2 linked regions of the Homo sapiens genome follow. The protein of the gene in region 2 interacts with the protein of the main gene of each other region in a biochemical or structural test. Each region holds a gene or a part of one and is shown on either strand. Other genes may lie near its edges.

The links.
Region 1: of the proteins of COP1 (region 2) and CCT4, one has a biochemical effect on the other in vitro, tested with the Homo sapiens proteins (one study listed by BioGRID).

What each region holds. Positions count from the first base shown.
Region 1 is NC_000002.12:61,887,180-61,890,928, reverse strand, and holds the start of CCT4 (T-complex protein 1 subunit delta), read left to right. Parts: upstream 1-2,272; 5' UTR 2,273-2,421; coding exon 2,422-2,548; intron 2,549-3,749. UniProt on the Homo sapiens protein: Component of the chaperonin-containing T-complex (TRiC), a molecular chaperone complex that assists the folding of actin, tubulin and other proteins upon ATP hydrolysis.
Region 2 is NC_000001.11:176,205,540-176,209,288, forward strand, and holds the start of COP1 (E3 ubiquitin-protein ligase COP1), read right to left. Parts: upstream 1,748-3,749; 5' UTR 1,440-1,747; coding exon 1,033-1,439; intron 1-1,032. UniProt on the Homo sapiens protein: E3 ubiquitin-protein ligase that mediates ubiquitination and subsequent proteasomal degradation of target proteins.

The sequences.
Region 1 (3,749 bases), on a different chromosome or scaffold from region 2:
CTTGGGAGTATTCTGGTCCTCTGAAGAGAAGTCGGCCTCAGAGGTTTATGGATCTTCATTTCCTAGTGCTAATATCCTTCTTTTTTTTTTTTTTTTTTTTTTGAGACAAAGTCTTGCTCTATCACCCAGGCTGGAGTGCAGTGGCGCAATCTCGGCTCACTGCAACCTCCACTTCCTGGCTTCAAGGGATTCTCCTGCCTCAGCCTCCCGAGTAGCTGGGATTACACCCCCGGTTAATGTTTTGATTTTTAGTAGAGACGGGGTTTCGCCACGTTGGCTAGGCTGGTCTTAAACTCCTGACCTAAAGCGATCCACCCACCTCGGCCTCCCAAAGTGCTGGGATTACAGGCGTGAGCTACTGAGCCAGGCCCCTAGTGCTAATATGCTAAATGTGTGTTAAAGAACAACTTGGCGAGGTGGCTCTCGCCAAGCCTGCAATCCTAGCACTTTGGGAAGCCGAGGCGGGCCTATCACCTGAGCTCGGGAGTTCGAAACCACCCTGTCCAACATGGAGAAACCCCGTCTCTACTAAAAATACAAAATTAGCCGGGCATGGTGGTGCATGCCCGTAATCCCAGCTACTGGGGAGGCTGAGGCAGGAGAATCGCTTGAACCCGGGAGGCGGAGGTTGCGGTGAGCCGAGATGGTGCCACTGCTCCAGCCTGGGCAACAAGAGTGAAACTCCGTCTCAAAAACAAACAAAAACAAACAAACAAACAACACCACCACCACCTCATAATTACAAGATTAAGTACCTTTGAACATTTGTTTCTGAACCTACCACACGCAACTGTCACTTTGCAGGTGCTTAATAATTGTGAGCGAACATTCAACAAACCTCATTTCATAAACTTCCCTACTGAAATATAGTGGTCATAGGAGACCAGCAGTTTAGCTCATGGCTTCTGGTCCTTGCTTTGTATTGGAATACTGCTTCTATCTACTGACTCGTTTACCCTGGGCTTCAGTTCCTTCTTTGGGCTCCAGTTCTCTCACCTTTTAAGTAAAGGATTATTGTGAGGACTAAACGAGATATAAAACGTGTAAAGGTTTAGCACTGTGCTTAGCAGATAACGGAAATAAATGATCTTTATTATAATGTTTACGTTCCCTAAGAGTCAGTGGCTACGTCATGCAGGAGACACTAGTGTAGAACAAGCGGGCGGTGGTAACTAGACAGACCTGATTTGGCAGTCTGTCAAACCTCCACCACCCAGTATCAACCAATACGAGATAACTAACCTCGCCTCATTCCAAATCTCCCTTTTCTGACTCCCTTTCAAAATGAACAAAACTGCATAAAATGCAGGTCTATGTGGCCGGGCAAAAACAGACTCAGTCATATCCCTTAGAGAGTTATTCCGGCGCCCACCCCACCTCGCGGATAGATCCAGCCGGAGTTAAAGGAGGGCACCTCCGGGTGGGCGCGGTGGCTCACGCCTGTAATCCCAGTACTTTGAAACGCTGAGGAGGGTGGACCGCTTTGAGCCGGGGAGGTCAGACCAGCCTGGGCAACACAGCGAAACCCAGTCTCGCTATGTTTCGAATACAAAAATTCGCTAGGCATGGTGGCGGGCACCTGTCGTCCTGGCTAGTTGGGAGGCTGTGGCGGGAGGATCGCTTGGGCCCCGGAGGTCGAGGCTGCAGTGAGCCAAGATCGCCCCACTGCACTCCCGCCTGGACGACAGAGCGAGACTCTGTCAAAAAAAAAAAAAAAAAAAAAAAAGGCCGGGCTTCGTGGCTGACGCCTGTAATCCCAACACTTTGGGAGCCCGAGGCGGGTGGATCACCTGAGGTCGGGAGTTCGAGACCGGCCTGGCCAACATGGTGAAACCCTGTCTCTACTAAAAATACAAAAATTAGCTGGGCATGGTGGCGGACGCCTGTAATCCCAGCTACTCGGGAGGCTGAGGAGGATCGCTTGAACCTGGGAGGCGGAGGCTGCAGTGAGCCGAGATTTTGCGCCACTGCACTCCAGCCTGGGCAACAGAGTGAGACTGTATCCAAAAAAAGAAAAAAAAAAAAAAAAAAAGGAGGGGACCTCATAGCCGTGCAAGGTGGAGTGAGGAAATGCGGATGTCCTCACCACTCGCCTTTAAAATCGCGCGTTGTCATTGCTGCCTCGCGTAAAGGTTCCCCCGGCGCTCTTCACCCACAGCGCCCCGGGCGTACAATCTCGCCAGCCCGGAGCCCACCGCACGCATCCTCCTCGCCCGGCGCGCAGCGGACAGCCTCCTACGTCACGCCAGCGCCGCGCGGCAAGGAAGGCCCCCTTCTCCGCCTCCGCCTCCTCCCGACGCCGGCGCCGCTTTCTGGAAGGTTCGTGAAGGCAGTGAGGGCTTACCGTTATTACACTGCGGCCGGCCAGAATCCGGGTCCATCCGTCCTTCCCGAGCCAACCCAGACACAGCGGAGTTTGCCATGCCCGAGAATGTGGCACCCCGGAGCGGGGCGACTGCCGGGGCTGCCGGCGGCCGCGGGAAAGGCGCCTATCAGGACCGCGACAAGCCAGCCCAGATCCGCTTCAGCAACATTTCCGCCGCCAAAGGTATCACTCTCATGGCCTGACCCGCGGCGCCGCGGGGTTGTGCTCTGCGCTCTCATCGTGGGCTTGAGCGGGTTTGGCTCATTTCCCATTTCTTCGGGTGATCCTCTCTTGTCCTCCCTATAGAAGCAGCCCAGTGGAGGGATCCTTATTTCTGTTTTTCTGCCGATGATCGCCAACCCGGAGTATGGAGGCCTTTGGACTTGCCCCATTTTGCATCTTAATCTCCCTTAGTTTTTCATCCTGCACTGTGCATCATTCATATTGGAGCCGAAAGCAGTTCAAAATGCCGAGGATTGCATGCAGTCTTCACTAGGGATCTGACGCTTGAGGGCTGTCGCTTATTGCTTATTGGAACTGGTAGAATGCACAGTATCTTTCAGCTTTGTTATTCTTATTTAAAGAACTATTAAATAAACTTCACTTGGCACAACTGTTGAGACGAATTGGGTGAACTCTCCGAGTCTAAATTGGGGCGGGGCCCATTGTACTGGGATGGATGTGGGAACCGACTTACGTGTCGTGTTTGAAATAGTTGCGGAAAAGTTACGTTGATGTCGTCTCCGCATGTGCAGTGAAACATAGGCAAATCAAGAAACAATTATTTGTTTTTTTTGTGGAAGTGTGTGGCACACGTTGGAAATCAGGAAGACCAGAGTTTCATTCTCTGCTTCCGTTACTTCATGTCTTAGTGACCTGTAACCTCTGTGCCAAAGATTCACTTATAAAATTGGAGGAAAATGTTTGCTTTTTAGAGTTAAGATTAAGAGAAATCGAGTTGAAATAGAAAAATCTGGAAGGAAAAGTCAGGACAGAGGTTTAGAGATCTTGCCCGAGTGTATATTGAGTATAGTAGTTCTTTTGGGTTGGAGAATAGTAGTATGTTTACAGAAGAGGTGAGATTAGAAAGCTAGGTTGGGGCAGATGTTAAAGGCCTGGTGTCCTGGAAAGTATTTGGCTTAATCTCCCCCAGCTATGGGATCATTTCTTTTTAGCCATCGTGTAGGCTTGCTGTGAGGATTCAGTGAGAAAGCATATAAAGACCCACGTATATAAAGTACACCTTACATGTGTTTGCAGTCATCAGCCCAAGTAACTGGGAATGTGATGGCGCTAAGATAGGTAACGCTGGATGTAAGAAAAAGTAATAGTTTCTAACTTGTCCTAATGAGTTGGAAAGGTCAGAATGGCCAGATTTAGGAGT
Region 2 (3,749 bases):
TACATGCCTAATATTTGATCAACAATTTCCTCAAAAAGGAAAGTACGAAACACTACCACTTCTTAAGCAGCTAGCTAACAGCAATTACTTCTCATAATCCTACCAATATCTAAAATCCAATAAAAATTCCAAAACACTCTCAAGCAAGACAATCAACACCACCTTTCACTTCATATGACTAACCTCTCTATCCCAAATGTCATGACTAAATGTTACTCTGTATCATTCAAGATGCCAACTATGACGACAAAATGTCTATACCTAGCATTTCTCAAGTCAGAAGTTCCAGTATACTCTGTTATCCAGTATAGTACAGTTACATCTGACACAGGGATGTTATTTAACAAACGTGGTTCTCTCTTTTCAAGACACTTGGTGGAGAAGTGAAAAATCTGTTAACAGACTTTGACTACAGTCGTCTCAACAGCCGATTCCTAAGTGGCCCATCCTTTGAAATGGAAGAAGATATTTACACATACATACGATAGGTACTTACATTATTATAAAAAGCATGTCTTTATAAGACATCCATGCTTATGTTTACAGCATCATCTACCATACTTCAAATAAATTTTGACCAACTCCACCCCTCTGCATCCGAGGAAGCTTAGTCCTCTCCATTTGCAAATTTCATTCATCTCAACAAGGACTCCTGATTGACTGAGTGTTCAATTCATCAGAGAGGCAAAAATTTTAAGACTCAACCTCTCTGCCAACTTTGTTATCCAAAACCATTTATTTGACCTTCCACCTCTTCCCTCGTCATTCGTTAAACTCCCTTCACTTCCTCCTCAGCAACACTTACCTACCTCTTTATTATCCCCACCCTGCCTCGCTACTCCAACATTCCTTCACCCCACCAACCAGGAGCTCGAATGCCTGCAAACGCTCGATTCCCTCTGCAGACACCACCACAGCACCAGTATCCCAAGCTCTCCAACAAGCCACCCCCACACCAGACCCCCCGCCCCCAAGCCTAAGCGGCAGAAACTCATAATTTAGGGACAAGGAGGGAGTGCTCTTCAAACCCACCATACGAAGTCGTTGCTTTTGTCCTCGTAGGAGTTGATGAGCCCGTTGCAGAGGGGGGCGAGGAGAGGTCGCTTCCTGCTGCCGCTGCCTAGGCTGGAGCTGCTGCCTCCTACGCCGGCGCTGGGCCTGGCCGCGCAGCTGTGCCGGGACAGGCCCGTGGACACCGCCCCGCCGCCGCTACCCGATACGGCGGGCGCCACCAACACAGGCCGCACCGGGCCCCCGAGGCCGCCCGAGCCGGCGGCCTGGGCCACCCCGCCGGACACCAGCGCTGCCGCCGAAACCGCCACGGAAGGCGGCGACGGGGAAGAGGATAAAGACGAGGAGGCGGAAGTCACCGAGGAGGCCGCCGAGGACCCGGGGCTTGTCCCAGCGGAGCCCGACCCGGCCTGGCGGCTACCAGACATCGTGACTCCCTCCCCTCCAGCCGGGCGCTCGGAGGAGAGGGACCGCGACCTCGACCCTCCGCCGCCTCCCCTCCCCTCAGCCTCAGTGCATCCTGAGGACGCCCGCCGAGCCGGAGGTGGGGCTGAGGAACAATAAAGTTGCGTTTTTTTTTAAGGCAGCCACACAACAGCGTCCCACGGGAGGGGGCGGAGGAAACTAAAAAAGCGGAGTAGAAGGCACTACCGCTGTCGAGGCCGCCGCCGCCACCGCGGTCCCTGTAGCAGCCAACCCCGGCGCGCCGTGGCCGGCCGTGCGCGCGCGCGCGAGCGGCGGAAGAGGCGGGCGTGGCGGGGGATACAACTGGGGACGCAGCGGGGCTGCGCTCAGACGCTCAGGGCGCGCCCTCGGGGTCGGGGCTCCCTGGCGAAGGGAGTCTGTCTGTCCCAAGCCGCTTTCGTTCCAGAAAACGTGCCAGAGGGCAGGCCGTCTTAATACAGTGAAAGAATTGAGGAGACTGGAATGAATGGTATAGGTGGTGGGGTGGTTTGAAAGACGGGAACGTAGCGGGCGGAAACTCTCGAAAAGCGACTGCGCAGGCGCGCGCCGGGCGCGGACGCTCACGGGTCACCCAGGGTATCCGCCCCAAGCGGAGAATATCGGCGCAAGCGCGGAGTAGCCGTGTCACGCATGCGTGCGAACGCACCACATTCCGGAACGGGAAGAAGGAGCTGTCTCTCTCTTCTGAGGGGTAGGCAGGTGCTTCCGAATCGCGGAATGTAGGTGCTCATAAGCTGGAGACCCACGGAAAGAACCTAGAAGCTCCGAGCGGTTGCAGACAGCACTGCATTGAGCCAACGACTCCTGCTCTACTGATGGTGATTCCACAGCTTTGTGAGGAATAAGTTAAGATGAAGTCAGTGAAGTTTTCTGCGAATTGCAAACATTGTAGCAAGTGTTACCAATTTTATTAGTTCGACCACGACTTCACTCCTATATTTTGAAAAGCTGTTTGCCAAATTGAACATAACAATAATGGGAAAACAGATTTTGCTCAATCAGACCCAGCTCAGTCGGAACCTAGGTTTATTGTGGATCTGATATAATTCTAGCACAAAACAAGGAAACCTAGCATTTAATACCACCAGAAAATATACAATTTCTGGTAGGCTTTTTTAGAATATTGAAAATTGATTATAGGCGGGCGCGGTGGCTCATGCCTGTCATCGCAGCACCTTGGGAGGCCTAGGGGGTCGGATCACCTGAGCCTGGAGGTGAGGATCAGGCTGAACCTGAGGTTAGAGACCAGCCTGGGCAAGATAGCGAAACCCCGTCTCTACAAAAAGTACAAAAAATTAGCTGGGCATGGTGGCAGCAGGCCTGTAGTCCCAGCTACTCGGGAGGCTGACATGGGAGGATTGCTTGAGCTGGGGAGGTTGAGGCTGTAGGGAGCGGAGATCCCTACACTCCAGCCTGTGAGACAGAGACCCTGTCTCAAAAAAAAAAATTTTTTTCATTTGCCGCATTCTAAGGGGTGGGAGTTAGAAACAACTGTGTGATTTTATCCTTTTCAATTCTATCATTCTATGATTCTTATATATTTATTTGGGAATAAAGTGTGAAAATACTCATGACTTAGTAAACTACGTGCGTATTCAAGGAGGTAAAGGAAGGCAAAGGTTTTTAAAATTTAAAAAAAAATGAGAATTACATAATTGTTTTTAAACCGTTATCCTTGGCTACGAAGATCAATAACAAGGTGACACCAGTCGGAAACTGGACAGGAAGTTGCTGGGCAGATGTTTTTGCGGAAGTATTTTTTGTGTAAGATTGTGGCTTTTGGCCAGGTGCGGTGGCTGAGGCCCATAATTCCAACACTTTGGGAGGCCAAGGCGAGTGGATCACCTGAGGTCAGGAGTTCGAGACCAGCCTGGCCAACATGACGAAACCCTGTCCCTACTAAAAATACAAAAATTAACCGGGTGTGGTGGCATGCACCTGTAATCCCAACTACTCGAGAGTGTGAGGCAGGAGAATCGCTTGAACCCAGAAAGCGGAGGTTGGAGTGAGCCAAGGTCGTGCCACTGTGCTCCAGCCTGGGCAACAGAGCAAGACTCCATCTCAAAAAAAAAAAAAAGATTGTGGCTTTTGCAGGTTTTTGTGATAGTTTTTGTCATCAGGTGTGCAAGCATGAGACCCCTTCTCTTCATGACCTCTGAATCTATTTTTCAGTGTTTTAAAAAATATATTAGTGACTACCTCCCACCCCCTTTTGTTTAAGAGATGGGGCCCCCCACCCCCTTTTGTTTAAGAGATGGGGCCCCCCACCCCCT